Regions from separate parts of the Homo sapiens genome. Here regions 2, 3, 4 and 5 are each linked to region 1. The links come from fine-mapping of genetic effects on gene expression. A gene starts in region 1. Each other region holds a variant in brackets. All regions are shown on one strand. Distances are between the middles of the regions. Region 1 holds the start of STIM2 (stromal interaction molecule 2). Region 2 overlaps STIM2 (stromal interaction molecule 2). Region 3 overlaps STIM2 (stromal interaction molecule 2). Region 4 overlaps TBC1D19 (TBC1 domain family member 19). Region 5 overlaps LOC105374542 (a long non-coding RNA gene).

The links. PIP is the estimated chance that this variant, and not a neighbour inherited with it, causes the effect.
Region 2: its variant is the best candidate, but not a certain one, in a credible set for the expression of STIM2 in Th2 cells (Schmiedel 2018, PIP 0.58).
Region 3: its variant is the best candidate, but not a certain one, in a credible set for the expression of STIM2 in CD4 T cells (BLUEPRINT, PIP 0.81).
Region 4: its variant is the best candidate, but not a certain one, in a credible set for the expression of STIM2 in whole blood (TOPMed, PIP 0.78).
Region 5: its variant is the best candidate, but not a certain one, in a credible set for the expression of STIM2 in aorta (GTEx, PIP 0.81).

The regions. Positions count from the first base shown.
Region 1 is chr4:26,858,822-26,863,821 of GRCh38, forward strand. STIM2 (stromal interaction molecule 2) reads left to right here and starts at 2,020. Exons shown (of 12, transcript NM_020860.4): 1 at 2,020-2,548. The coding sequence starts at 2,398. STIM2-AS1 (STIM2 antisense RNA 1) reads right to left here and starts at 1,778. Exons shown (of 2, transcript NR_134674.1): 1 at 1,689-1,778; 2 at 803-1,207. It also overlaps a transcript of TBC1D19 not described here. RefSeq lists an enhancer at 1,577-1,676 and silencers at 1,767-2,136, 2,147-2,716.
Region 2 is chr4:27,017,155-27,022,154 of GRCh38, forward strand. STIM2 (stromal interaction molecule 2) reads left to right here. Exons shown (of 12, transcript NM_020860.4): 11 at 557-830. Among named protein-coding and RNA genes, the nearest start is that of STIM2, 160 kb to the left of the region's middle. RefSeq lists enhancers at 163-664, 665-1,164. The variant A/AT (reference allele first, on the strand shown) is at 2,528.
Region 3 is chr4:26,891,138-26,896,137 of GRCh38, forward strand. All of the region lies in intron 1 of STIM2 (stromal interaction molecule 2), which reads left to right. Among named protein-coding and RNA genes, the nearest start is that of STIM2, 33 kb to the left of the region's middle. The variant C/G (reference allele first, on the strand shown) is at 3,044.
Region 4 is chr4:26,647,140-26,653,531 of GRCh38, forward strand. All of the region lies in intron 7 of TBC1D19 (TBC1 domain family member 19), which reads left to right. Among named protein-coding and RNA genes, the nearest start is that of TBC1D19, 66 kb to the left of the region's middle. The variant A/T (reference allele first, on the strand shown) is at 2,966.
Region 5 is chr4:26,288,131-26,294,522 of GRCh38, forward strand. It overlaps LOC105374542 (a long non-coding RNA gene), which reads right to left. Exons shown (of 2, transcript XR_925508.3): 2 at 23-319. It also overlaps a transcript of RBPJ not described here. Among named protein-coding and RNA genes, the nearest start is that of RBPJ, 30 kb to the right of the region's middle. RefSeq lists an enhancer at 515-564 and a silencer at 735-784. The variant T/C (reference allele first, on the strand shown) is at 2,710.

The DNA of each region.
Region 1 (5,000 bases):
AAACACTTAAAACTCCAGTCCAATACACTCTCAATGTCAATACCCTCCCTATCTTTAAAAGAAGAAAAAAAAATACTAAATCATCTTTGTTTAAAGAATCCTGGCCCCTGTGATTTGTTAATTTGTTCGTGGTTTTATACTGTTACTACTGTAACAGTTTGCACTACACCATTTAGCAACTGATTACTACTTTGTATTAGCCTCTAATTGTTTAATGGGTGTACATTTTATCTCCTTAAAAAGATTGTAAGATGCCTTAGTCATGGGACTGTGCTGTTTATCTCATAGCCCTGACTGCTGACTTAATTGCCTTTTTCAAGTGTCTCTCTTGCCTAACCCTCACCACTCAGTACTCTGCCTGGCACATACTAGGTACTCAGTAAACATTTAATAAATGAAATGCCTCCTGGAGAGCAGGAACAAGCTTGTTATTTATATTGTTCTGGTCCCCTAGCAGAATTATCTTCTCTGGTGGGCACTCAGCACTCTGGTGTGACTTCATCGCTGTGCCTTTCAGCAGGGGAAATATAATCTCCCGGTTGCCCTATAAAGAATTGCCACCTGAACACTATGCCCACAAGAAGTCTGCTGAGAAATAACTGTTGATAGATTGACTTAGCCTCAAAGACATCCTTGATTCTTTTCTAAAGTGTGCATCTGCCCTTCCACAATAAACGATATTTGTGGTTATCTTGGCCAGGCTACCTAAGAAATACTTTAGGAGAATGTAATTTGAGTATCTTCTTGGCTTGAGAAAGCAAGCAAACAAACCAATAAGCAGAATGAAACCAACAAAACCCAATAGCAAAAGGATCTTCGTGTTTAATAACCCTATCTGCAAATTTTAAACAATTTTGTGCCCCTGGGAGAAAGAATGCCTCCTTGCGTGTGAATTTCCAGGGCTTTTAATTTATAGTGACAGTACATTCAACACTTCCTTTTAAATTTGAAGGGAGGTGGCCTTAAAAATATGCTGGCAACTAGTTTGGATGAGAAAGATTCCGGTTCTTTATTTATTCAAACCAATTAGACCAGGTCTGAACAGGATTTACAACAGAGAGCAGATCTTGGGTGCACAAGAGCTTTGCTTCATTCCAGGTTGGCGAAAACAAGTCAAGTCTACATCATTGTTCTGTCAGCCGGTTCAGGATACAGCACAGAGTCGATGGGATGGGGGTGGGAAGGTGATGAGTTCAGGTAAATGTACCTAGGAGAGTCAGAGGCTAAAGTAAATTCTCTTAAATAGGCCTTTTCAGTGGCTGCTAAATCTCGCTCATTTCCCATGAATTAGCTGTGGGATATTGGGGACAACTTACTTCACATTTCTAGGTCTTAGTCTCTTCATTCGTAAAAGGGGGTAACGATAATTTTGGAGTTATAGCATGTAAATGTGTAAAACGGTTAGAGCAATGCCTGGTACACTCACACATAGCACGCGCTTTGTGAAATGTTTGGCAAGTAAATAAAACGCTAAGCTATGCTAACCGCGTCTAAACAGCCAGCCACTTGTAAGCCCCACCTATATTGAAATTACGGGGACGCTGCTGTTTTCCGATTGCAAGATTTTCCTGATCCATGCAATTACTTTCGCTGCCCTCTACGAGGCTGAAACTCGCCCTCAGGATGTGGGACGTCTGGACTCTTCTCTCCGTCCCCTTGTAGCCCCCCACTCCCCCTCGCGGTGGTACCGTGAATGAGGGAGAGGTACACGTCCCCCTTCTTCCCCGCCTCCTATCTTCGCGGCTCGCTAAAGCGTTATCAGCCGCCCCACGGTACTACCGTCCGTCTAGGAACGCCTCCGGGGCGGGGCTGGGATGCCGCGCACGCGCAGTACAGCAGCGCCGCGCCTGCGCCGTGGAGAGCCTGAGGGAGGCGGGGGATTGGTATGCGAGCGAATGTGCGAGGGGAGGGAGGCGTCCCGGCGGAGCGTGGTACTACGACCAGCGCGGGCCGGAGGGGGCGGGGGGATGCGCCGCGGCGGCGGCGGCGCGGGAGCTGGGGTTGGTGTTTGGCGGCGCCAGAGCAGCGGATCCCGGTCTCGCCGCAGCAGCAGCGCGGGTGTCGTGCACCGCCTGAAGACGCCGTACCTTTCTACCCCCCACCTTTTTTTTTTTTTTTTTTAAATAACCGGAACCAATGAACGCAGCCGGGATCAGAGCTCCGGAGGCCGCCGGTGCCGATGGGACCAGGCTGGCGCCCGGCGGGAGCCCGTGTCTGAGGCGGCGGGGGCGGCCGGAGGAGTCGCCGGCGGCGGTGGTGGCGCCTCGCGGAGCCGGCGAGCTGCAGGCGGCCGGGGCGCCGCTGCGCTTTCACCCGGCTTCTCCTCGGCGCCTTCATCCCGCCTCGACTCCTGGCCCAGCGTGGGGCTGGCTGCTGCGGCGGCGGCGCTGGGCTGCGTTGCTGGTGCTCGGGCTGCTGGTAGCCGGAGCGGCGGACGGATGCGAGCTTGTGCCCCGGCACCTCCGCGGGCGGCGGGCGACTGGCTCTGCCGCAACTGCCGCCTCCTCTCCCGCCGCGGCGGCCGGCGATAGCCCGGCGCTCATGACAGGTGAGGGGCCGGGGGGCGGCGGGCGGGGCTCGGCCGGCAGCGATGGGACCCCCAACCCGTGCAGAGGTCAGCATCTCCGCCGGACGTCCGCTATTCCGCGGCTCCGGCCAGGGCGCGATGCGGAGCCCTGCCTGCTGCTTCGTCGCGGTCCCCTGCACTCCGGACGTCTTTCCTTTTCACCCCGACACCCCGCCCTCGCCGAGCCTCTCGACGGCACTGATTCCCCTCCCTTCAGTCGGGCTCTCCGATCTTCCAAGCTGAGCAATGCGGTGGTTTCTCTTTCGTGCTGCAGAAGTGCCAGCAGGGTCTGCAGGGGACTGGGCTGATTTTTTTTTTTTTTTTTTTTTTGAGGCTGCTAGAAAAAGTCAGCAGCAGCATTGCGGTATTGAGTCTACCTCTGGTGCTGCTTTTGCAAAGGCAGCTGGCAGCGAGTCTCACCGGTTCAAAGCTCCGCTTGAGCACAGCGTCCCAGGGGAGCCTGCTAAAGGGGATTCTTTGAGAGCCATAATACCTAGTGATATTAGTGGTTCCGTGTTAGTATGCAGAAATGCCTAAGTTTACAGTGCATTTTTTGCGGGGTGGAAGGAGGCCGTTTTAAGTGGTGATGGAAAGTGTTTGGTGGTGGGAGCATCACTGGGTGACAAAGGGTGTAGAAACCTCAGCAGGTAACCAGAAATTATACCTAAAATTTGCAAAGTGCAGCATACTCGGGGCTTGCAGCTGGCAGCACAGTTCTGATAGACTGCACTAGCACCTTTTTTTTAATATATAGAACGATCTCATAATTGAAAACTTGGAAACGTGTTTTGTAAGGTTAAGTGCAGAATTGTATCCTTTTTAAAGCCTTCCGGTGTTATGTACAACTGATCAGTTGTGGTTTAAGTAAAAGTTATTATATAAGGACCCTGAAATGATTTCTTTGGGAAAAGTAATGGAGCTAAAATAATGGTTTTTTTTTTTTTTTTTAGTATTTCACTTATTTTTAAAGTAGATCTGTAGATTTCCTACAATAATTGTAAGACTAAAAAGTTTAAAGTGGCAGAAGATGACCCGTGATTAATTTAACCAAAATGATAGTCCTGCGGGCGTCTGGAAGTTACTAACAGCTTCTCTGACAAGTGCTCAGGAACTGTATTCTTTAAAGCCAAGCAGTTTCTCTGATTTCTATGATAGGATATTTACTATTCTAGAGAGAAGAAGGATGTTGGTAAACTTTAAAAGCTTTGGAGGATGTAGAGTATAGAACATAATGGTCAGCATGTTTAACTTTACCCTGAAGCATATCAAGCCCTATTAAATGGAACTTGATACATCAAACCTACCAATTGGGTAACTGGGATAAAGTGATTATAGAATAATCAGTATTAGGAGCATAGTACAGTTTGAGTGAGAAGATAGGTCAGACAGCTTTATGCTTGAATAGTATTTATTCTCCAAATAAAAATGTGGCAAGTAACAGTATAGTGAAGAATAGTGATTATTAGGAAAGTTGATAAATAAGACTATAATTTGAAGATTTAATGCCTCATGCAGGAAGGGAAGGAGCAGGAATATTTAGGCTTCTAGAAGGTATAAGTGGTTCTAGGTTTCTCGAGCAGAAAAATGTGGTTAATACATAATTGGCTAATGCTCTGTGAAAAAGTAATTGGTAAAAAGGCAAGCAATTCAGAAAATTTAGTATTTATTGACTGCTAATAAGTATATTTTATACTGTGTAGATCACATCAAGAAAATTGGTCAGATGGAATTTTAATAAGCCATTTACAATCCCTTTTAAGACTTAAATTTCTCTATACTTATTTAAGGCATGGGGGAAAAAGGTGATTCTTATTGGAAAAAAATCCGATGTATCACACAAAATGAGTTTGTGCCATAGGGCTTTAAAATAAGTTTGCTAGAAGAATACCCTGGAATTATTTCTAACGTTCTTTTACTTTCCTTTTGTCAGAATATTGATTTTTAACAAGTTAAACGTTTCCACTTAAAGTTTAAATCATAAAACTACACAATATACAAATTAAATTGTTATTTTAATAAGTTTATGTAAATACAGTCAATAGCACCCATATCTTGGTAAAGGTAAACTGAAAATCTATGATGAAGTTAGAAAATATTGAAAATTTCTTTGAACTATATGGCCTCTATAGGGCTCTTTCCCATTCTTAAGAGTGTATGAATAGTGCTTTCTTTTATGGTTCTATTTGTAAATGTTATGCAAAGCCTAGAACCTAATTTATTAGCATTAGTGTACACTTCAGGAAGTAAAACCGTAGACTGAATTTACAAAATACTGTGGTGTGGTATCATATTGTAGGCAGCGTTAATGGATAGAGATGGAGTAGAGCATCAGTAATAAGAGAACTAAACGTCACGTGAATTTTGAAAATTGAAAATTTTTGAAAGCATTCTGAGAGAAGAATTGGTCTCTTTGTCTCCTGATTAAAGTTGTGAT
Region 2 (5,000 bases), 160 kb after region 1:
TAGTTGGATCTAAGACTTCTGTTTAGTTCCACAGTAGTGGGTGTTCAAGAAACAAGTTTTGCTCTGAACTCTGCCTAACCAGCTGTGAGACTGTGCATACAGTAGTTAAGTGATTTCCTTGATTTAAAACTGATTGAGTTCAAAGAACTTGTGATATTTCAAGAGATACCATTGCAGCCTACTTTATTCTGTTGTCCTTTCTTTATGTTAACAGTCATAAAAAATTTGTGATACAATACAGGTTTTTAAATTTAAAGATTTGTTGTCTTAGGTAAATTTTTAAGCCTTTTTGGTTAGTACATTTAGATTTTCTGTTAAAGCCTCATGTTTATGTTCACTTCTGTTTGTTTTTTAAACCTGTTTTTTTTTTGTTTCTATTTCTTAACTTTCCTAGTGTAGGTAGTAGAGAATGGTAATAACTGTACAGTAACTTCAGTAAAGGGAGATGAAACAGTGACATATTAGTGACATCAGTTCTCTTGTGTGTATGTATTTGTGGTGACTGTAAAGGGAACCCTGGACTTCATGAGCATGTTTCTTTCTTGGTGTTTTTCAGGGACCATGGCTAAACCTCCTGGATCATTAGCCAGAAGCAGCAGCCTGTGCCGTTCACGCCGCAGCATTGTGCCGTCCTCGCCTCAGCCTCAGCGAGCTCAGCTTGCTCCACACGCCCCCCACCCGTCACACCCTCGGCACCCTCACCACCCGCAACACACACCACACTCCTTGCCTTCCCCTGATCCAGATATCCTCTCAGTGTCAAGTTGCCCTGCGCTTTATCGAAATGAAGAGGAGGAAGAGGCCATTTACTTCTCTGCTGAAAAGCAATGGTATTGGCAGTGAATAATCTACAGGGCATGTTGGGGCTGGGTTGGGGGTAAGGTGTGAGGAGGGGGCGGGAGGAGTGGTGCATGTTTCCATTTTCTGTTGCTACATATCAAGGTACCACAGACTTTGCAGCCTCAGACATCACCCATTTTTTAGCTCTTAGTTCTGTACATCAGAATTCCAAGCCTGGTGTGACTGGGGTTTTTGCTCAGGGCCTTACAAGGCTAAAATCATGGTGTTGGCCAGGCTGCATTCTCATCTGGAGCTTGCAGTTCTCAAAGTTCATGTGGTTGTGGCGAACTTCATTTCCTGTGGCTCCAGGACGGAGGTCCCCGTGTCTGTGCTTTCTGTCAGCTGCATGGCGGCTGCTCTCAGGTCCTGGAGGCTGTCCACTGTTCCTTGCCACAGGATCTCCCATCTTCAAAGCCAGCAATAGAGAATTTCTCTGCTGTAGATTCCTCCTTTGCTTTGAGTCTCCAACTTCCGTCTCTCTGATCTCTAGACTAAAATGTAAAAGGCTCCCCTGGATAATAATAATCTCTCTATATTAACATCAACTAGTTTGGGGCCTTAATTTTATCTTCAGAATCCCTTTACAGCAGCATCTATTTTTATGTTTGATTGGAAAACTGGAAGAAGGTGTGTGTACACCAGGGGCTGGGAATTTGGGAGCCATCTTAGAATTCTGCCTACCACAGACATGTAGGTAGATATTTTGAGATGTAACTGCTTAGAGGTCACTGGACACGGTTGACTCAGATCTCAGAGCATAAACTTGTCATGAACAATTTTATATGTAAAATGGAAAAGCATGAGCTTGAATATACTTGAACACGAAGAAATATCGGATATGACTGACTTAAAAATATTTGTTGTCACTTAATGATTTATTCTGTTATGTGCTGGTACTTGCTAACACATAAGCAGTATCATATGCCAAAGGTTTAAGAAAATGTCAGGAACTTAGAAAAGTAAATTAGTAACTTAACAAAATGGGCATAGCAGCAGCGTATTTCAGTCCAACTTAATGACATCAGTGCTCCATGAAACTCTTAATTTGAGGAGCTCTGTTCTTAAACCACATTACTCTTTAAAAGCAGTATGGTATTGAGTGGTAGTTTCAGGTATTGCCACTGAGTAGCTATGTGTCCCCAAAGGCTTTACCCTCTTCTATGAGAAGCAAAAGGGAGTGGTCTACACTCTTTATCATGTGACTCTTTAGGTGACATTATCATCAATAATCATTTTTCATTCATAATTATCTAGTAGTAAAAGAAAATTTTATGATTTGCAAGTGATCAGTGCAGCATATTCCTAAGGAGATAATGCAGGCTTTATATCTTCATTGCAGTTGGAGAATCTGATGCGACTTTGCTTGGTTAACACTTTATGACTAGCTTTTCGTCTGTCTTTGCAGTATGATCATAGTCACCAGCAAGATGCCTTTACTGACAGAACTGGTCTTGTGTGGTTTCTGGAAATCAGAAGGAAAACTCGAGAGCTGCACTGTCTAATAAAACTTCCTGCATTGATGGAACGTTCAGTTCTCATTTCAATAGCAATGTCAAAGTTTCATAGCTAGCTCTCATAAATAAGAGAATGATTTGAATTTGGAAAACTTTTCTTCCTCTTCATTTTCAGTCTCTCCTCTATTGAACCACCAGAATCCTTACAAAATAATAATGTTGAATATTTACTG[A/AT]TTTTTTTTTTTTATGAGACGGAGTCTCGCTCTGTTGGAATGTTCTATGCCTTATGCACATATATGCTCATTTAAACCTCATTTTGAGTTTTCTTACATGTGAATTCAACTCCATGTCACTCTGGGGAAAAAAAGAAATAGAAAAAAATAGCATAAGTGGTACAGATAGTTCAACATTCCAAAGAGTATGTACTCTGCAAGAAAATAAAATTTGAACTTGTATTATGTCTTATTATCCAAGTCAGATTAGTTATGCAGAAGAAGCAACACTTTGGATTATTGTCATTACGCAATTCAAATGTTAGAACTAGAAGGTAACATTAGTGATTAATCAAATTTTCTTACTTTAACAGATAGGAAAATTGAGACCTCAAGAGATCAAGTGATTTACTGAGGCTTTTACAACTGATTAATGGTAGGACCATCTTAGGAACCCAAGTCTCCTGACTTAAATCAGTATTCTTTTCACACATTGTTTAGAGTTTAGAGGCTAGTTTTTAAAATACTTTTAGCCTAGCTTAGAATTTCACACACAATGCAGCAAAGCCACATAACAGAAGAGAAAATATTCATAAAATTATAACTGAATCAGCTTCTGACTTTGGAAGCTGAACAGCTTCAGGGAACAGTGATATATTCTGTTCAATTAATGGACAGCCATTCCAAAAAAGGCTTTGCAGAAATGCCTCTATCAATGATTGATTTCTGAGTCTGATCATTTCCTCATATCTGAACTGCTTCTTGCTTTCTGTTAGCACTACCCATTATTGAATTATAAAAGCATTTGAGAATTATGCAGCACACGTAGGTGTATTATGTGAAACCATTAGGTCGTTATTTAGGGGATTTTGTACCTTTCGAGAGCTTGTAGTGCAGTAAAGACGATCTTCATAGACATATGTGAGTAAAGTACATAGAAATGACTAAATTCAGCAATCTGAATATGTATCTAAAATGTGGTATTAACATAGAATATTCATCAAAATTAAGTGCCAGACCTCCAGTAAATGTGTACATCAGTAACATGAAAATGATATTAATCATAGGCCATCTAAGGTAAGAGATCATTTAGTTTATTCATTTTGTAAATATGAATTTAGTCCTTGCTATGAGAGGTGCATTTGCCTATAACATGAGCTGCCAAGACAAGTGAGACAAGGACCTGGCCTAGTTCCAGCTGCTGGGTTATAATCATATGTGCTCTTGCCTTTCTGTTCTGCCTTCAGCTCTGTTCCCTTCTCACACTGTATTTCTTTTGCCACTTTTTACCTTGACTCTCCCTTTCATTTCTCAATCATTTCCTTTCATGGAGTGAACAGTATTCACCTTGGGCTCGGTGCGTGCAAAAGTGAATGAGACTAAGTAGTAAAGCTCTCAAAAAAAAAAAGTGAGTAAGATGTGATCCCTGTTCTTTAATATCTCACTCTGTTCATTCATTCATTCACCCACCCTTCCATTCATTCATCCAACACATTTTTATGAAGTACCTACCGTAAACTTGCCACTCTTCTAGTGCAGAGAAGACAGAAGTTAATAAGGCTCCTTGTCCTTATTTATTTCTTTTTTTCTGGGATTCTGCCTATAAACAAGTTAATATAAAATATCATTTTAGGTTTTGGTAAGTTTTGGGGTTGCAAACAAAGACAGGTAAAAGGAAAGAGAATGCTGTTTCAGACAAGGTGGTTAGGGCAGGCAGCAGTAACCTGCGTACCCTGGAGAAGTAAGCCACGTGGAGATGGAGAGTAGATAACACCAAGCAGAGGGAACAGCAAATGCAGGGCCCTGAGGGGTCTCGAGGTTGGCATGTTACAGGAACACAAGGGAGTGTGCAGTTGGAGACAGCCAGGGACCACATGTACACGGCCTGGTACGCTTTGACAAGGACTTTGGATCTTACTCTGAGTATGAGAGAAAGCACTGGGAAGTTTCAAGTAAGTGAATGATATGTTTTGCTTGAGTTTTTAAAAATCACTTTAATGGCTGTGTAGAGAAGTAGCTGGGAGGGAAGAATGAGAATGAAAGCAGGAAGACCAATTAGGAAGCCGTTGCAATCATTTAGTTGAGTTCCTGGCTGTTGCAGAGGAAGGATGGGAGCAGGGGACATAATAAGGAATGGTGGATTTGAGAGAGATTTGAAGGAATGGGTGATGGCATTTACTATATGTTGGTTTTGGGGTTACAAAATTTATTTTTCCACTGTGGAGAAAAGGAGGAAAACATTCAAAAGTAAGAATGCTGTGAGAATTTACTGAATGTCTGTTTTTTTTAAAAATAGCATCATATGTTTGCCCCTCCCCTCCACTGCCATACTCTGATGTGCCTCGATTCCCTGCCCCCCTTTTAAATTTGGTAGAACTTACATTTTAGTGTAATTCCTTTCATGTATATTTCTTCCTTCCTAACAAAGCTATAGTTCATCAAGTTAATGACAAAGGGAGAGGCAGTGACTAAAATTCATCTTTTAAAATAGCGT
Region 3 (5,000 bases), 32 kb after region 1:
GGTCTGTGGTGTCCAGTTGTTTGGTCAAACACTAGTCTAGATGTTGCATGAAAGTAATTTGTAGATATGATTAGTATCTGTAAGTAGTTATGCTGAGAGATTGCCCTTGATGATATGAGTGGGCCTTATCCAATCAGTTGAAGGCCTTAGGAGCAGAAACTGAGGTTTCCTGAAAAAGAAGTATTTCTGCCTTAAGACTGTAACCTAGACATTTTGCTTGAGTTTCTAGCTTGCTAGCTTGCTCTTGTGACAGAATTTGGACTCAAGTAAAACATAAACTCTTGCCTGCACTACAGATTTCAGACTTGTCAGCCTGTATAATCTTGTGAACTAGTTCCTTAAAATAAATCTCTATATTTATACACATATATGTGTGTTTGTGCATGTATATATACATATAAAGATATGTGTATACATACATACACACACACACACACACACACACACACACACACACACACCCCCTTTTGGTTATTGGTTCTGTTTTTCTAGAAAACCCTGACTGATACACTCAGTAAATGGGCTAGAGTAGCACACCCAAATAAGGAATATGTTGCCTTCCAAATACAAAGAGGCCTACTAGACATTCTGTCTGTCTTGATTTTAGGAGGGACTAGCTAAAACAACTTTTACTTCACATTAGAAGGGATATGTCAACATGTACCACATCACTAGACCCTTAGAAATTTCACCGAGGTGGAAGGCTCCTTGTCTGTTCAGGTGATGTGGGTTGGCTCTGTGTCTCTACCCAAGTCTCATCTTGCGGCTCCCATAATTCCTATGTGTTGTGCGAGGGACCCAGTGGGAGATGATTGAATCTTGGGTGTGGGTCTTTCCCATGCTGTTCTCATGATAGTGAATGGGTCTTGTGAGATCTGATGGTTTTAAAATGGGAGTTTCTCTGCACAAGCTCTGTCTGCCGCTATCTGTGTAAGATGTGACTTGCTCCTCCTTACCTTCTGCCATAATTGTGAGGCCTCCCCAGCCATGCAGAACTGTAAGTCCAGTAAACCTCTTTCTTTTGTAAATTGCCCAGTCTTGGGTATATCTTTATCAGCAGCGTGAAAATGAACGAATACATCAGGCTTTAAGAAATTACCAAAGACTGCGTGGCTTAAACATCAAACATTTATTTCTCACAGCTCTGGAGGCTGAGAAATCCAAGATCAAGGTGCTGGCAGATCCAGTGTCTAGTGAGGGCACTCTTCTGTTTTGCGGCCATCTTTTTGTATCTTCATGTGGTGGACAGCAGAGAGAGCGAGTGAGCTCCTGTTTCATAAGAGCACTAATCCTATTCAAGACGGCGCCACCCTCATGACTGACAGACCTCCCAAAGGTCTCAATTCCTATTATTACTTTGGGAGTTAGGATTTTAACATATGAATTTTTTTGGGGGGGGACGCATATATTCAGTCCATGACACCCCTGGATTTTTGTCTTACTCATTTCTTACCTTCTGACATGCATATGTTTTACCAATAAGCTTAGAGTAATTGCAGTTTCTTGCTCACTAGGTCCAATTAGCATAAGGTCATGAATATAATGGGTTGTTGTGGTGTCTTGTGGAAGGGAAAGTTGATCAAGGTCTCTGGATTAAATTATGACGTAGGGCTGGAAAGTTGATATAACCCTGAGGTAAGAGTGAAAGTGTATTGCCTTTCAATCTTGCTAGCTAAAAACAAACTACTTCTGGCAGTTTTTATTAACACACGTTGAGGAAAAAAAGCATTTTTCAGATCCATATTTGCAAACCAGTTACCAGGGTATGTGTTAGTTTGCTCAAGCAGTGAAACCACATCTGGTACAGCAATTAGAATTGGAGTTACCTAGTTAAGTTTATAATAATGCACTGTCATTCTCCAAAATTCATCTGTTTTCTGCATGAGGTAAACAGGTAAGTTGAATGGGGATGTGTTAGAATCACTACCCCTGCATCCTTCAGGTCCTTGATAGTGGCACTAATGTATGCAGTTTTAGAGTGAAACATATTTGGAGTGACATATAAAATACACAGAAGAACATTAAATGTTTATGTAGTCTAATGAATAATAAAGGGAACCATTAAACCACCTTCAGGTCATGAAATAGAACTTCATCAACACCCCTAGAAGTTCCCCCTCCCCATAGTCCCTCTTCTTAATCACAACCTCTCCTACTGCCAGAGTTGTCATTATTTCTGTCATGATACTTTCCTTTCTTTTTACTTTTTACAATTTGTGTATGTTTACCTAGATAATATTATTTAGTTTTGTCTTTTTTGGACTGTATATTAATAAAATCATTGTATGTGCTTTTTGCCTGTCTTGCTTTTGCTCAAAAAAGTGTGAGATTTGTCCATTTTGTTCTGTGTAGCTGCATTCATTCATTTTTATTGCTGTATTCCAATTTTGAATACACTGTAGTTTATCCACTTTTCTTATGAAGCTTTTGTTTCTAGTTTTGACCTTTTATGAACAGTACTTCTGTGACTATTTCTTTATTGCACATTTTTTGAGTGAGTTTTTCAAGGGTGTGTAACCAAGGAGGTTGCTGGGTTAGGTGATATCAGCTTTCCTTAGTAATGCCAAATTATTTGCCAAAGCGGATGTATCAGTTTACTTTCCCAGTGTCACGAACATTGGTATTAAACATTCATTTTTTTTTTGAAGTTGAGCATCATTTCATATTACTAGTTATCTAGATTTCCTCTTTTGGAGATTGTCTATTTAAGTCTTCTGTTCATTTTTTTATTGAGTTGGAGTGTTTTTTTCTTACAGATAATTATTTTTTGAGACAGAGTCTTGTTGTGTCGCCCAGGCTAGAGTGCAGTGGCGTGATCTCAGCTCACTGCAACCTCTGCCTCCCGGGTTCAAGCGATTCTCCTTCCTCAGCTTCCCAAGTAGCTGGGATTACAGGTGCCCGCCACTGCGCCAGGCTAATTTTTATATTTTCAGTAAAAATGGGGTTTCACCATCTTGGCCAGACTGGGCTGGAACTCCTGACTTCGTGATCCACCCGCCTCGGCCTCCCAAAGTGCTGGGATTACAGGCGTGAGCCACTGCAC[C/G]TGGCCTAATTCTTTATATTTCTGTTATATTTGATCACAATTGCAATATCTCTTCCGAATTTTTGCCTTGTCTTTTTATATACTTATGTGTGTATATATATATATGGTGTATTAATAAACAGAAGTTCTTAATGAGAGTACTGCCAAATTAACTGGATTTTCCCTTTATAGTTAAAGCTTTTTGTGTCTTACTGAAGTAATCCTTTTCTATTCTGTCTTTTATTGTCTTTAGTTTAACTTAGTTTGTATTTCAAATTCAGGTTTTTATTCACTGAGAATTGATTTTGTGTTTTTTGAGAATCAGGTCTGATTTCCATTTTTTTCCTTCCGTGTGGATGTTCAGCCAATTGCAGCACCATTTTTTTTTTTTTAACAAGTTTGAATTTTCCCCACTAATCTGTGGTGCTAGTTGTGTCGTATAGCAAGTGTCTGTATGTGTGTGAGTCTGTTCTGGGCTCTTTATTTTTTCACTGATCTATTTTTCTGTTGCTTTGACAATACTCACAGTGTTTTTAAGTCACTGTCATCTTATATGTCTTAATATTTGGTATAGCAAGTTTTATTTGTTCTTTTTCAAGACTGGGCTATTCTTTGCCCTTTGCATATTCATATAAACTTTGCAATTAGCTTGTGAAGCTGCATGGAAAAAAACCTATTGGAACTGCACTGGTTCTATTAAATTGATTTGGAGGCAGTTGACATACTTATAACATTCAGTCATCCAGTCTAAAAATTTGATAATTATTTCTGGCCGGGTGCGGTGGCTCACATCTGTAATGCCAGCACTTTGGAAGGCCAAGGTGGGTGGATCACCTGAGGCCAGGAATTTGAGACCAGCCTGGCCAACATGGTGAAACTTCGTCTCTACTAAAAATACAAAAATTAGCTGGGCATGATGGCGCACGCCTGAAATCTCAGCTATCCAGGAGGGTGAGTTAGGAGAATTGCTTGAACTTGGGAGGCAGAGGTTGCAGTGAGCTGAGATTGCGCCACTGCACTCCAGCCTAGGCGACAGAGTGAGACTGTCTCCAAAATAAATTAATAAATACATAAATAAGTATTTGATAATTATTTCTATTTAAGTCTGTTTTAGTGGCTCTCATAAAATTTTATAGTTTTTCCCTAGAGGTCTTGCAGCTTGTTGTATTTATTCCTAGGTACTGTATTTATTCTTAGGTACTCTTTGATTCAAAACATAAACGTTTTTATTTTCAAAATGGTTTTGCCAGTTCCCAATGTTTAAAATAACAAATACCATCATGGATCCATACGTTTTGAGTTTTTTTGCATGTTAGGAAGCATGAACTTGCAAATATTTTTCTCCTTTTCCTAACTTTTTTTAGTATGGCTAGAGAAAGGCAAGATTTTGACCTTAAGTTGCGATGAGAAATGGAAGAAACTTTTTTTTATGTTTTTGAATTTGTCCATAACCCAGTTTCATCAGTTTTAAGTCTCCATCTTGCACTGTCATTTATGAGAGCAAACTAGAGTTGCAGTCCCAAACCATGGAACTTCTTTGTGTAGTTTGTTCTCATGAAACATTCAGCCAGAACAGGAGGGCCTAAGTTTCAGACAAATTTTAAATTAGTTTGGAAAAGTAAGTGGATCTATTTTTGGCTTATCTACTACCTCAAAGTCATTCTCTTTGTAAGGGTGTTTGAAGAGTAATAATCAAACTCAGTGTGTTAGTTTTCTACTGCTGCATAATGAATTACCATACACTCAGCACCTCAAAACATCATATGCTTGTTATTTAAGAGTTTCTGTTGGTGATGAGTCTGGGCATGGTTTACCTCAATTCTCAGATTCTCACAAGGCTGAAATCGAGGTGTTGGTTGGGCCATGTCCTCATCTGGAGCATGGAGTCCTCTTCCAGGCTTATTCTGGTTGTTGAGGTAATTGAGTTCCTTGTTGTAGTACTGAGGTCTTCAATTGCTTGATTTGACCACTTGTTGCT
Region 4 (6,392 bases), 210 kb before region 1:
AACTGATCAGATACGGGGTCTATGAGAAAAAGAAAAGATAATGATCACCTTCAAGTATCTAGGTTGTGTAATTGGCTAGAAGTTACTTGACATGAGATAGAGGATACAGGAGGAGGAACAGGGCTGTTAGTGAAGGTGATAAGCTGAGTTAAGTTACAGAGACATATCAAATATTCAAGTGGAACCCTTCAGTAGACACTTGGAATTCATTATTTTAATTCATACGTTTGATTTCACTCTTTCTCTTGGACTTCACATGTAATCCTATTATATTTATCTTTGAAATATATCCAGAATACAGCCAGTTTTTGTCACCACCACTGCTATATCCAAGCTTCCCAACTGGTCTTCCTACTTCTACCTTTTCCCACCTAGAATCTGTTCTTAGCACAGCTTCCGGAGGAAGGCCTTTAAATGCAATTCAGAATAAGCCACTCTTCTGCTATCCAGTGGCTTCCCATCTTATTCTACTTATTAAATAAAAGCCCATTTGATTTGATATCCCATTACCTGTCTGAGTTCATCTCTGGTTACTGTCCTTCTGATTGGTCTTACTCCAGCTACTTTAGCCTCCTTGCTTACCCCTGGCTTCCTCCCAGCTGAGTGTCTTTGCTCTTTGTTTTATCTGCTGGCAATGATTTTTCCCTAAATGTCTACCTGCATGTTCCCTCACTACTTGTGTCTTTGCTTAAATATCACCTTCTTAGTAAAGGTTTCACTGGCTCTTCTGCTTGGAACTCCTTATACCCTTTCCAGCTTTGTTTTCCTCCACAGCATCTATCATGACGTATGTAACATACTATTGATTTATTTTGCTTATTGCTTGCCTTTTTCCATTACAAAGGAAGCTCCACAGGGGCAAGAGCTTTTCAATTCTGTTTTGTTCCCTGCTTCAGCAGTCACACAGGGTCAAATAATTGACAACACTCACAAGACTTCTCAGGGTACACCCACATGTGGCTTTCTTTCAGCAAGAGAAAGAATGAACCTGCAAACACAAAGAGATCCACACTTCTGACAGAGCTCTCAGGGCCCTTTCTCAGTTACACAGGATGTGTTTAGATTTTCAGTTATAAACCATCAAGATACATGTGAGATATCTTGGCCTAGAGAGCCAAGACACAAGTTTTTTGAGGGGTCGTTTCTACCCAACTGGTTATATCAGATGCAAACCACCAATCTACATTTTCAATAAACAATGTAAATAAACAGTTGTGGAATGCCTCCAGGTTAGTTTTGGTCATAAAAATAGCATATTACAACTGACTAGTTAGTACATGTCACTGCATCTTGGCCAAGGGTCACTACCAGACTTCCAGGTATTTCTGGAGATTAGCATAACACTACCACAGGTCAGCTGTAAGTTAATCCTGTCTTTGACTGCACTGTCCCCAAGTAGAACAGTGCTTAGCACAATCTGCTCAATAAATATTTACTGAATGAATGAATAAATGAATCAATGAATGAAGGTTTCACATTTTATCTCTTTACATTTGCTAAAGTAAAACTTGGTTAGAAATTATTTCAGAACTTTTGGAATTGTAAACAGTTTACTTTGAATGTTGAAGAGACAGGTTAGTAAAAAACTGCCTTTATGATGATGGCTTTATTTCTCTTAGCTTACTAAAAGTTTCTCCCAAACTCTTCCCTTTTCTAGCACTTAAAAGCTGAAACTTTATGTAATTTTTATATTCTTATTCTTATTCTTATTATGTTTTCTCCTTAATAGCTCGTAACATTGTTTCTTTGAGGACAGTTCCTTAATTGATCTTTTATTACTCATGCTGAGATCTTTTTAAAATTACGAATATTTTAAATAATTATTTCCTTAATTACAGTTTCTACATTTCTAATATTTTTATTTTTCTGTTACTCATGTATTTACAGTTTTTTCTCCTTTTCCTGTCTTTTATGTTTGTCAGTTTCCCTTGTAGTATGATTCCTTATTTATGTAATTAGGCTAAAATTGTGCTGTTAGGTAATTAGGCTAAAATTGTAGATTCTTTGCTAATTTTTTTTAAACAAATACTATTTATATTTATAGTGTCAATATAGTGTTTGCAATTTTAGGAAACTTTTTTGGTATTATAGCATATATTTTATCAGCTGTTAGCTATCAGTTCATTAATGTCTTCCTCAAATATGATAGCGTTTCTGTCATCATAATCTCCTCCACTAGATTCTTTTTTTTCCCAATACCCCCAGCATTTTTGACAGCTTTATTGAGCTAGAATTTTTACAGCATAAATTTCAGCCATTTAAAATATACAACTCAAGTGGTTTTCAGTATATTTACAGAATTGTGCAACATCACCACATTTTTAGAACATTTTTATTACCCAAAAAAGAAACCTTATGCCCATTTGTAGTCACCCTTCATTCTCTTCCCCATGCAGCCCTAGGCAACCACTAATCTACTTTTTGTCTCTATGAATTTGCCTGTGCTAGACATTTCATAGAAATGAAATTATACCACATATGTTTATTGTATAACCAATGACTGGTTTCTTTTACTTAGCCTACTGTTTTCAAGTTTCATCCATGTTGTGGCATAATATCTCAACGTTCTAACTTTTTTTTTTTTTATTATACTTTAAGTTTTAGGGTACATGTGCACAACGTGCAGGTTTGTTACATATGTATACATGTGCCATGTAGGTGTGCTGCACCCATTAACTCGTCATTTAACATTAGGTATATCTCCTAATGCTATCCCTCCCCTCTCCCCCAACCCCACAACAGGCCCCAGTGTGTGATATTCTCCTTCCTGTGTCCATGCATTCTCATTGTTCAATTCCCACCTATGAGTGAGAACATGCGGTGTTTGGTTTTTTGTCCTTGCGATAGTTTGCTGAGAATGATGGTTTCCAGCTTCATCCGCATCCCTACAAAGGACATGAACTCATCATTTTTTATGGCTGCATAGTATTCCATGGTGTATATGTGCCACATTTTCTTAATCCAG[A/T]CTACCATTGTTGGACATTTGGGTTGGTTCCAAGTCTTTGCTATTGTGAATAGTGCCGCAGAAAACATACGTGTGCATGTGTCTTTATAGCAGCATGATTTATAATCCTTTGAGTATATACCCCGTAATGGAATGGCTGGGTCAAATGGTATTTCTAGTTCTAGATCCCTGAGGAATCGCCACACTGACTTCCACAATGGTTGAACTAGTTTACAGTCCCACCAACAGTGTAAAAGTGTTCCTATTTCTCCTCATCCTCTCCAGCACCTGTTGTTTCCTGACTTTTTAATGATCCTCATTCTAACTGGTGTGAGATGGTATCTCATTGTGGTTTTGATTTGCATTTCTCTGATGGCCAGTGATGATGAGCATTTTTTCACGTGTCTTTTGGCTGTATAAATGTCTTCTTTGGAGAAGTGTCTGTTCATATCCTTCGCCCACTTGTTGATGGGGTTGATTGTTTTTTTCTTGTAAATTTATTTGAGTTCATTGTAGATTCTGGATATTAGCCCTTTGTCAGATGAGTAGATTGCAAAAATTTTCTCCCATTCTGTAGGTTGCCTGTTCACTCTGATGGTAGTTTCTTTTGCTGTGCAGAAGCTCTTTTGTTTAATTAGATCCCATTTGTCAATTTTGGCTTTTGTTGCCATTGCTTTTGGCGTTTTAGACATGAAGTCCTTGCCCATGCCTATGTCCTGAATGGTATTACCTAGGTTTTCTTCTAGGGTTTTTATGGTTTTAGGTCTCACATTTAAGTCTTTATAATCCATCTTGAATTAATTTTTATATAAGGTGTAAGGAAGGGATCCAGTTTCAGCTCTCTACATATGGTTAGCCAGTTTTCCCAGCACCATTTATTAAATAGGGAATCCTTTCCCCATTGCTGGTTTTTCTCAGGTTTGTCAAAGATCAGATAGTTGTAGATATGTGGCATTATTTCTGAGGGCTCTGTTCTGTTCCATTGGTCTATATCTCTGTTTTGGTACGAGTACCATGCTGTTTTGGTTACTGTAGCCTTGTAGTATAGTTTGAAGTCAGGTAGCGTGATGCCTTCGGCTTTGTTCTTTTGGCTTAGTATTGTCTTGGCACTGCGGGCTCTTTTTTGGTTCCATGCAAACTTTATGGTAGTATTTTCCAATTCTGTGAAGAAAGTCAGTGGTAGCTTGATGGGGATGGCATTGAATCTATAAATTACTTTGGGCAGTATGGCCATTTTCACGATATTGATTCTTCCTACCCATGAGCATGGAATGTTCTCCCATTTGTTTGTATCCTCTTTTATTTCATTGAGCAGTGGTTTGTAGTTCTCCTTCAAGAGGTCCTTCACATCCCTTGTAAGTTGGATTCCTAGGTATTTTATTCTCTTTGTAGCAATTGTAAATGGGAGTTCACTCATGATTTGGCTGTTTATCTGTTATTGGTGTATAAGAATGTTTGTGATTTTTGCACATTGATTTTGTATCCTGAGCCTTTGCTGAAGTTGCTTATCAGCTTAAGGAGATTTTGGGCTGAGACGATGGGGTTTTCTAGATATACAATCATGACATCTGCAAACAGGGACAATTTGACTTCCTCTTTTCCTAATTGAATACCCTTTATTTCCTTCTCCTGCCTGATTGCCATGGCCAGAACTTTCAACGCTATGTTGAATAGGAGTGGTGAGAGAGGGCATCCCTCTCTTGTGCCAGTTTTCAAAGGGAATTCTTCCAGTTTTTGTCCATTCAGTATGATATTGGCTGTGGGTTTGTCATAGATAGCTCTTATTATTTTGAGATATGTCCCATCAATACGTAATTTATTGAGAGTTTTTAGCATGAAGTGTTGTTGAATTTTGTCCAACGCCTTTTCTGCATCTATTGGGATAATCCTGTGGTTTTTGTCATTGGTTCTGTTTATATGCTGGATTACATTTATTGATTTGCATGTGTTTAACCAGCCTTGCATCCCAGGGATGAAGCCCACTAGATCATGGTGGATAAGCTTTTTGATGTGCTGCTGGATTCGGTTTGCCAGTATTTTCTTGAGGATGTTTGCATTGATGTTGATCAGGGATATTGGTCCAAAATTCTCTTTTTTTGTTGTGTCTCTGCCAGGCTTTGGTATCAGGATGATACTGGCCTTATAAAATGAGTTAGGGAGGATTCCCTCTTTTTCTAATGATTGGAATAGTTTCAGAAAGAATGGTACCAGCTCCTCTTTGTACCTCTGGTAGAATTTGGCTGTGAATCCATCTGGTCCTGGACTTTTTTTTGGTTGGTAAGCTATTAATTATTGCCTCAATTTCAGAGCCTGTTATTTTTTTGTTTTTCCTTTTTGTGGAGAACGGGGTCTCACTGTATTTCCCAGGCAGGTCTCGAACTCCTGGGCTCAAGCTATCCTCCCACCTCTTGCCTCCCTGAGAGCTGGGATTACAGGCGTGAGCCACCGCACCCGGCCAGAGCCTGTTATTGGTCTATTCAGAGATTCAACTTCTTCCTGGTTTAGTCTTGGGAGGGTGTATGTGTCAAGGAATTTATCCATTTCTTCTAGATTTTTCTAGTTTATTTGTGTAGAGGTGTTTATAGTATTCTCTGATGGTAGTTTGTATTTCTGTGGGATCAGTGGTCATATCCCCTTTATCATTTTTTATTGTGTCTATTTGATTCTTCTCTCTTTTCTTCTTTATTAGTCTTGCTAGCGGTCTATCAATTTTGTTGATCTTTTCAAAAAACCAACTCCTGGATTCATTGGTTTTTTGAAGGGTTTTTTGTGTCTCTATCTCCTTCAGTTCTTCTCTGATCTTAGTTATTTCTTGCCTTCGGCTAGCTTTTGAATGTGTTTGCTCTTGCTTCTCTAGTTCTTTTAATTGTGATGTTAGGGTGTCAATTTTAGATCTTTCCTGCTTTCTCTTGTGGGCATTTAGTTCCATAAATTTCCTTCTACATACTGCTTTGAATGTGTTCCAGAGATTCTGGTATGTTGTGCCTTTTTTCTCATTGGTTTCAAAGAACATCTTTATTTCTGCCTTCATTTCGTTATGTACCCAGTAGTCACTCAGGAGCAGGTTGTTCAGTTTCCATGTAGTTGAGCTGTTCTGAGTGAGTTTCTTAATCCTGACTTCTAGTTTGATTGCACTGTGGTCTGAGAGACAGTTTGTTATGATTTCTGTTCTTTTACATTTGCTGAGGAGTGCTTTGCTTCCAACTATGTGATCAATTTTGAAATAAGTGCGATGTGGTGCTGAGAAGAATGTATATTCTGTTGACTTGGGGTGGAGAGTTCTGTAGATGTCTATTAGGTCCGCTTGGTGCAGAGCTGAGTTCAGTTCAATTCCTGGATATCCTTGTTAACGTTCTGTCTGGTTGATCTGTCTAATGTTGACAGTGGGGTGTTAAAGTCTCCCATTATTATTGTGTGGGAGTCTAAGTCTCTTTTTAGGTGTCTCAGG
Region 5 (6,392 bases), 570 kb before region 1:
TGAGTAACAAATTACCTCCAAATTTAGGAGCTTAAGGCAAGAATAAACATTTATTCTCTCACAGAGTTTCTCAGGGTCAGGAATCCAGGAGTGGCTTAGCTGGGAGGTTCTAGCTTGGGATCTATAAAGGGATTGTAGTCAAGAAGTTGGCTGGACATACAGTCTTCTGAAAATTTGACTAAGGCTGAAGAATCTGTTTCCAAGGTGGCGCTCTCATGGCCGATGGCAGAGTCTTCAGTTGCTTATCACAGGGACTTCCTTGCAGAGCTGTTTGAGTGCCCCTCTGGCATGGCAGTTGGCTTCTTCTGCAATGAGTGATCTAAGAGCAAGAGCAAGGAGGAAGCCACAATGCATGTAATGACTTATTCTCACGGGTTGCACATTGTCACTGCTGCCACATTGAATTCGCTAAAACTCAGTTACTGACTACAGACCACACCCTAGGAGAGAAGAATTAGGCTCCACTTCTTGAAAGGAGTATCAAAGAACTTGCAAATTTATTTGTGAGTTTATTTTAAAAGCCCTCACAAACACGTATTCTTTAAACTAGAGTGGCTCAGCCCTGCAAGACAGGGAAGTTATAACAACCAACATTTCTAGAGTGACTCACTGTTTAGAAAGTATTTCCCCATGTTTTCTCATTGGGTTGTCACAACCCCCCAGTGGAACAACAGCATTAATATCCCCACTTAAAAATGAGGAAATGGAAGCGAGGTCACTTTTGTACAGTTATTTAACAAGTAAGTTGTATAGCTGGGGATTAAGCCCAGCACAAAGCATAAGGCCTTTTCACCATCCTTCAAATGAGAAACTTGGCATGAAGGCCTTTGCACAGAAAAGTTTCATTAGGAAGATTGACTATTCCTTACTTCCTACCAATTGTTTTTACCTATTTTATTAAATTTTTTTATGTTTAACTTACATACTTCCAAAATTACTTGAAGCAGTTTACAAATAAAATGTTTAAGAAAGAAAGAGGAGTAGGGCTGGGCCTGGTGGCTCATGCCTGTAATCCCAGCACTTTGGGAGGCCGAGGTGGACAGATCACTAGAGGTCAGGAGTTCAAGACCAGCCTGGCCAACATAGTGAAACCCCATCTCTACTAAAAATACAAAAATTAGCTGGGCACAGTGGCAGGTGCCTGTGATCCCAGCTACTTGGGAGGCTGAGGTGGGAGAACCACTTGAACCTGAGAGTGGTATGCAGGTCAAACCACTGCACTCCAGCCTCAGCGACAGAGTGAGACTTGGTCTCAAAAAAAAAAAAAAAAAAAAAAAGAAAAAGAAAAAGGAGTAAATAATTCTAGGCACCAGAAATGATCATATTACAACACTTGGCAATAAATTTGGTTCAGATCTTTCTGGCAGCAGAGGTGAAAAGAGAAGCGTGATAGGCTGCAGAGATTTCACTTTCTGACAAGAGTGAGCATGCATGCTATCATTGCCTGAAGCTAAATTCAAGAAGGACTTTATCACGTGGAGTTGTGTAGAGTTAATACCGCTTAACATTGTGGTCAGTATCTTCAATCACACGCTTGCAAAAGATGTACTCATATTAACCCTGAATGTAAACAGAGGACACACCTCACCTGTAAGTTGGTTAATATATTTGAGGAAGAAGCTGAGGAAAGGTGGCCCAGGTACCTTTCTCTCTAATGTCTTTACCAAATTAAGGCATAGAACTTGGAGAATATACAGGAATTGAAGGTTGATCTGTCTGGTGGACTGTCTCTCAAGTATCAGAGTTGTGAGAGTGCTTGAATGACCTGCTAAATCTTGTTAATTTGTCTTGGCATCTTGTAACAGGTACCTACCTGTAATATAAATATTCTATATTGTCAATTAATTAAGGACTTTGCTAAAAGAGAGCAAGGAATGCCAATATAAAGTTAAAGAAAAATATAAAATAAATAAGTTAGGCTGGGCATGGTGACTCATGTCTGAAATCCCAGGACTTTGGGAGGACATGGTGGGAGGGTTGCTTGAGGCCAGGAGTTCGAAACCAGCCTAGGCAAAACAGCGAGACCCCACCTCCCATCTCTACATGTGACTTAAAAAACTTAGCTGGGCATGGTGGTACATGCCTGTAGTCCTAGCTACTTGGAAGACTGTGACAGGAGGTTCACTTGAGCTCAGGAGTTTGAGGCTGCAGTGAGCTATGATTGCACCACAGAACGAGACCCTGTCTAAAAAAAAAAAAAAAAAAAAGTAAAAAAAGTTAGACCGCATGAGCTGTAATAACCCTTTTTGGACCAATATGCTGTGACTCTGTGGCTTTAAGGATGAGATGCCAATATGCATTCTTGTCCCAGTAGAGAGCCAGCCCAGTTTGGCCTGGGTGTGAGAAGCAAAGCTATCAAAAGCTTTGGCCAATTTTTTCCCCCAAAAGGAATTCCAAATATATCCAAGCTTCTATGTTAGTGACTGATTGAAACCAAAGCTTTATACCATATGACATAGAATCCTGGAATAGATAACTTTAGGCTGAAGAAAAAAGAAAAGTTAAGGCAGGTGTGAGCAGCTGTCCAGTTCTGCCATAAAAGAAATCAAGTTTAACTTCAGCGATAACATGCCTTCTTTTAAGCACTCGAGTTTTGTTAGGTTCTCTCCAGTTGGCTGAAAATTACACCCTAAATATTCCTCTAAAAGTAGATAACTTAGTGCACTTTTATTTAATATTACAGTACTTATAAAGGTTTCTATTAATGGG[T/C]CTCCTCCTTCGAGAAGAGAATCGTAAATGAAATACATAAAGATTAATAGCCTTTATTTATTTCTTAAACCAGCTGGTCTTCCTCTAAGAAAGCAGATATGCTAAAGTAAATAATCCTTCATTTTAAAAAATAGAAAGCATTCCCCTTGAATGCTGTTTACTGGCTGTGAGCAAATAGGTATTCACTTAGAAGGCTTTGCTCTCTGTTTATTACCCATATTTCTATAATACCTGCTTCAGAAGTGTTGCAGAAAGACAAAATTAATGTGCATGGAAAAAAAGCAGAGAAAATGAGTGTTAATCTTTGTGGAACAATCCAGAGTCCAGAGAAAGAGGCGAGTAGGGGGAGAAGCCACTTGTTGGAATGACTAGTATATTAAGATTCTCTTCTGGGTTATGGGTTAACATCTGCATCATTGAGGTCTATTCACAACAGGATATTGTTCAGTATAACTTTTTGCATCCAACAGAAATACAAATATTAATTTTCATGGCATAGAGAAAACTTCAAAATTTGGGAAAGTACTGAAGGATGTTATCACAAAGTTGTCATTTAGAGTCCAAGAACAGTCTTAACAATTGTACAAGCTTCAGAGCAAGGGCAGAAAATCAAGACATCAAATTGTCATGTGGGAAATCTATTCTGGGGAGTTGTAGAATAAATACTCACTAATAAGAAAAGGTGGGGAAGGTCCTTCTAAGCAAAGGAAATGAGTGACAAGACAAGCAGGTATGAATGACTTTTTTTTTTTTTTGAGATGGAGTCTCGCTCTGTCGCCCAGGCCAGAGTGCAGTGGCACAGTCCCTGCTCACTGCAACCTCCGCCTCCTGGGTTCAAGTGATTCTCCTGCCTCAGCCTCCTGAGTAACTGGGATTACAGGCATGCGCTGCCATGCCTGGTTAATTTTTGTATTTTAATAGAGACAGGGTTTCACCATGTTGGCCAGGCTGGTCTTGAACTCCTGACCTCCGTTGATCCACCTGCCTCGGCCTCCCAAAGGTCTGGGATTATAGGTGTGAGTCACTGCGTCCAGCCCTTCAGTTTGTTTTTTAAGGTTTTACATATATTTTTATTTTTTCCAGTTTTATTGAGGTATACTTGACAAATAAAACCATACAAGTTTAACGTGTACAATGTGACGATTTGATATATGTACATATTGTGAAATGATTACCACAATCAAGTTAGTTAACACATCCCTCACGTCACACTTTTACTTTTTTTAATGTGTGGTGAAAATATTTAAGATCTAATGTCTTAGCAGATTTCAAGTGTGCAATACAGTATTGGCAATTATTGCCACCATGCTTTATATTTAGTCTCCAGAACTTACTCATCTTATAACTGAAAGTTTGTACATTTTGACCAACATCTTTCCATTTTCCCTACTCCTCAGCCCCTGGCAACCTCTATTCTATTCTCTGCTTCTATGAGTTCAACTTCATAGATTTTACATAAAAGTGACATCACACAGTATTTGCCTTTCTCTGTGTGACTTATTTCATTTAGCATAATGGCCTCAAGTTGCATCCATGTTGTTGCAAATGGCAAAATTTCCTCACTTTTTTTTTATGACTGAATAATATATATATTTTTATGAGATGGAGTCTAGCTCTGTTGCCCAGGCTGGTATGCAGTGGCACAATCTCGGCTCACTGCAACCTCTGCCTCCCGGGTTCAAGCGATTCTCCTGTCTCAGCCTCCCGAGTAGCTGGGATTACAGCCGCCCACCATCGGGCTCAGCTAACTTTTGTTATTTTTAGTAGAGACGAGGTTTCACCATGTTGGCCAGGCTGGTCTCAAACTCCTGACCTCAAGTGAGCCACCTGCCTTGGCCTCCCAAATTGCCGGGATTACAGGTGCGAGCCACTGAGCCTGGCCAAAATCCTAACAGAATAACATTCTATTGTGTATGTATTAAAAAACTGTGGTGTGTGTGTATGTGTGAGGTATATACATATATATATATATGGTGTGTTTATATATATATATGTGTATCACAATTTTTTAATCCATTCATCCATCAGTGGACACTTAGGTTGTTTCCATGTCTTGGCTATTGTGAATAATGCTCCAATGAACATGGGCATGCAGATATCACTTTGATATATGGTTTCCTTCTGATGTTATACCCAGAAATGGGACTGCTGGTTCATTAGGGTAGATAGCATATTTGGATCTGTATACTATGGACACTTGGATATAGCTGGAGCACAAGGTACAGGGAGGGGAGTGAGAATGGGAGAGTAGGCTGGAAAGGTAAGCAGAAGCCACACTCTGAAGGGGCTCTTAGGCCAGTTGGGGTCCTTCTACTGCATAACCCAGGTTCCTCCTCAGGCCCAAGTAGGCTCTTAGCATTCCCTTTTCTTCCTCAGCTGCAGGCCTCAGGGCTTTGCTAGGTTTCCCCCCTTTACTAGGTGTTACCACTCACCCCATCTCTTGCATCTGGAAGGTGGTGCCCTCAGCTTCCTTTTTTTTTTTATTTTGTTTATTGCAAGACAGCACAGAGTCAGCTTGGCATGATGGCTCACACCTGTAATCCCAGCACTTTGGGAGGCTGAGGCAGGAGGATTGCTTGAGCCCAGGAGTTCAAGGGCAGCCTGGGCAACATAGTGAGATCCTGTCCTCACAAAAAATTTTTTTTAATTAGCCAAGTCTGGTGGCACATGCCTAAAGTCTCAGCTACTTGGGAGGCTGAGGCAGAAAGTTTGCTTGAACCCAGGAGTTCGGGGCTGCACTGAGCTGTGATTGTGCCATAGTACTCCAGCCTGGGTGACAGAGTGAGACCATGTCTCCAAAATAAGAAATAAAAAAATAAAAAGCACAGAGTTTTTATATTAAAAGATTTTCCAATGCTAATTATGATGGCAAAACAATTCAGGAATGACAAAAATAATAGACATGTATATGAGAAGTGTTTTTTTCTTCTTTTTTTGAGATGGAGTCTCGATTTGTCACCAAGGCTGGAGTGCAGTGGCACGATCTCTGCTCACTGCAACCTCTGCCTCCCAGGTTCAAGCAATTCTCCTGCCTCAGCTTCCCCAGTAGCTGGGATTACAGGCATGTGCCACCACACTCAGCTAATTTTTGTGTTTTTGGTAGAGACAGGGTTTCACCATGCTGGCCAAGCTGGTCTCGAGCTCCTGACCTCAGGTAATCTGCTCACCTCAACCTCCCAAAGTGCTGGGATTACTGGCATGAGCCATGGCACCCGGCCAGGAAGTTGTTTTTGTTTTTGTTTTTGTTTTTGTTTTTGTTTTTGTTTTTGTTTTTTTGAGATGGAGTCTCACTCTGTCGCCCAGATTGGAGTGCAGTGGCACCATCTCAGCTCACTGCAACCTCTGTCACCCGGGTTCAAGCAATTCTCCTGCCTCAGCCTCCCGAGTAGCTGGGATTACAGGCACCTGCCACCATGCCTGGCTAATTTTTGTAGTTTTTAGTAGAGACAGGGTTTCACCATCTTGGCCAGGCTAGTCTTGAACTCCTGACCTTGTGATCCACCCGCCTTGGCCTCCCAAAGTGCTGGGAATACAGGCATGAGCCATCACGCCCGGCTGGGAAGTTTTAAATTTAGGAGTAAGATGATCTGATTTACATTTTTAAAAGTACTCCAGATGTCGTGTAGAGAGTGGATTGTAGGGGACGGGAGTGGAGTAGAGGTCGGGAGAAGCAGGGAAGGTAA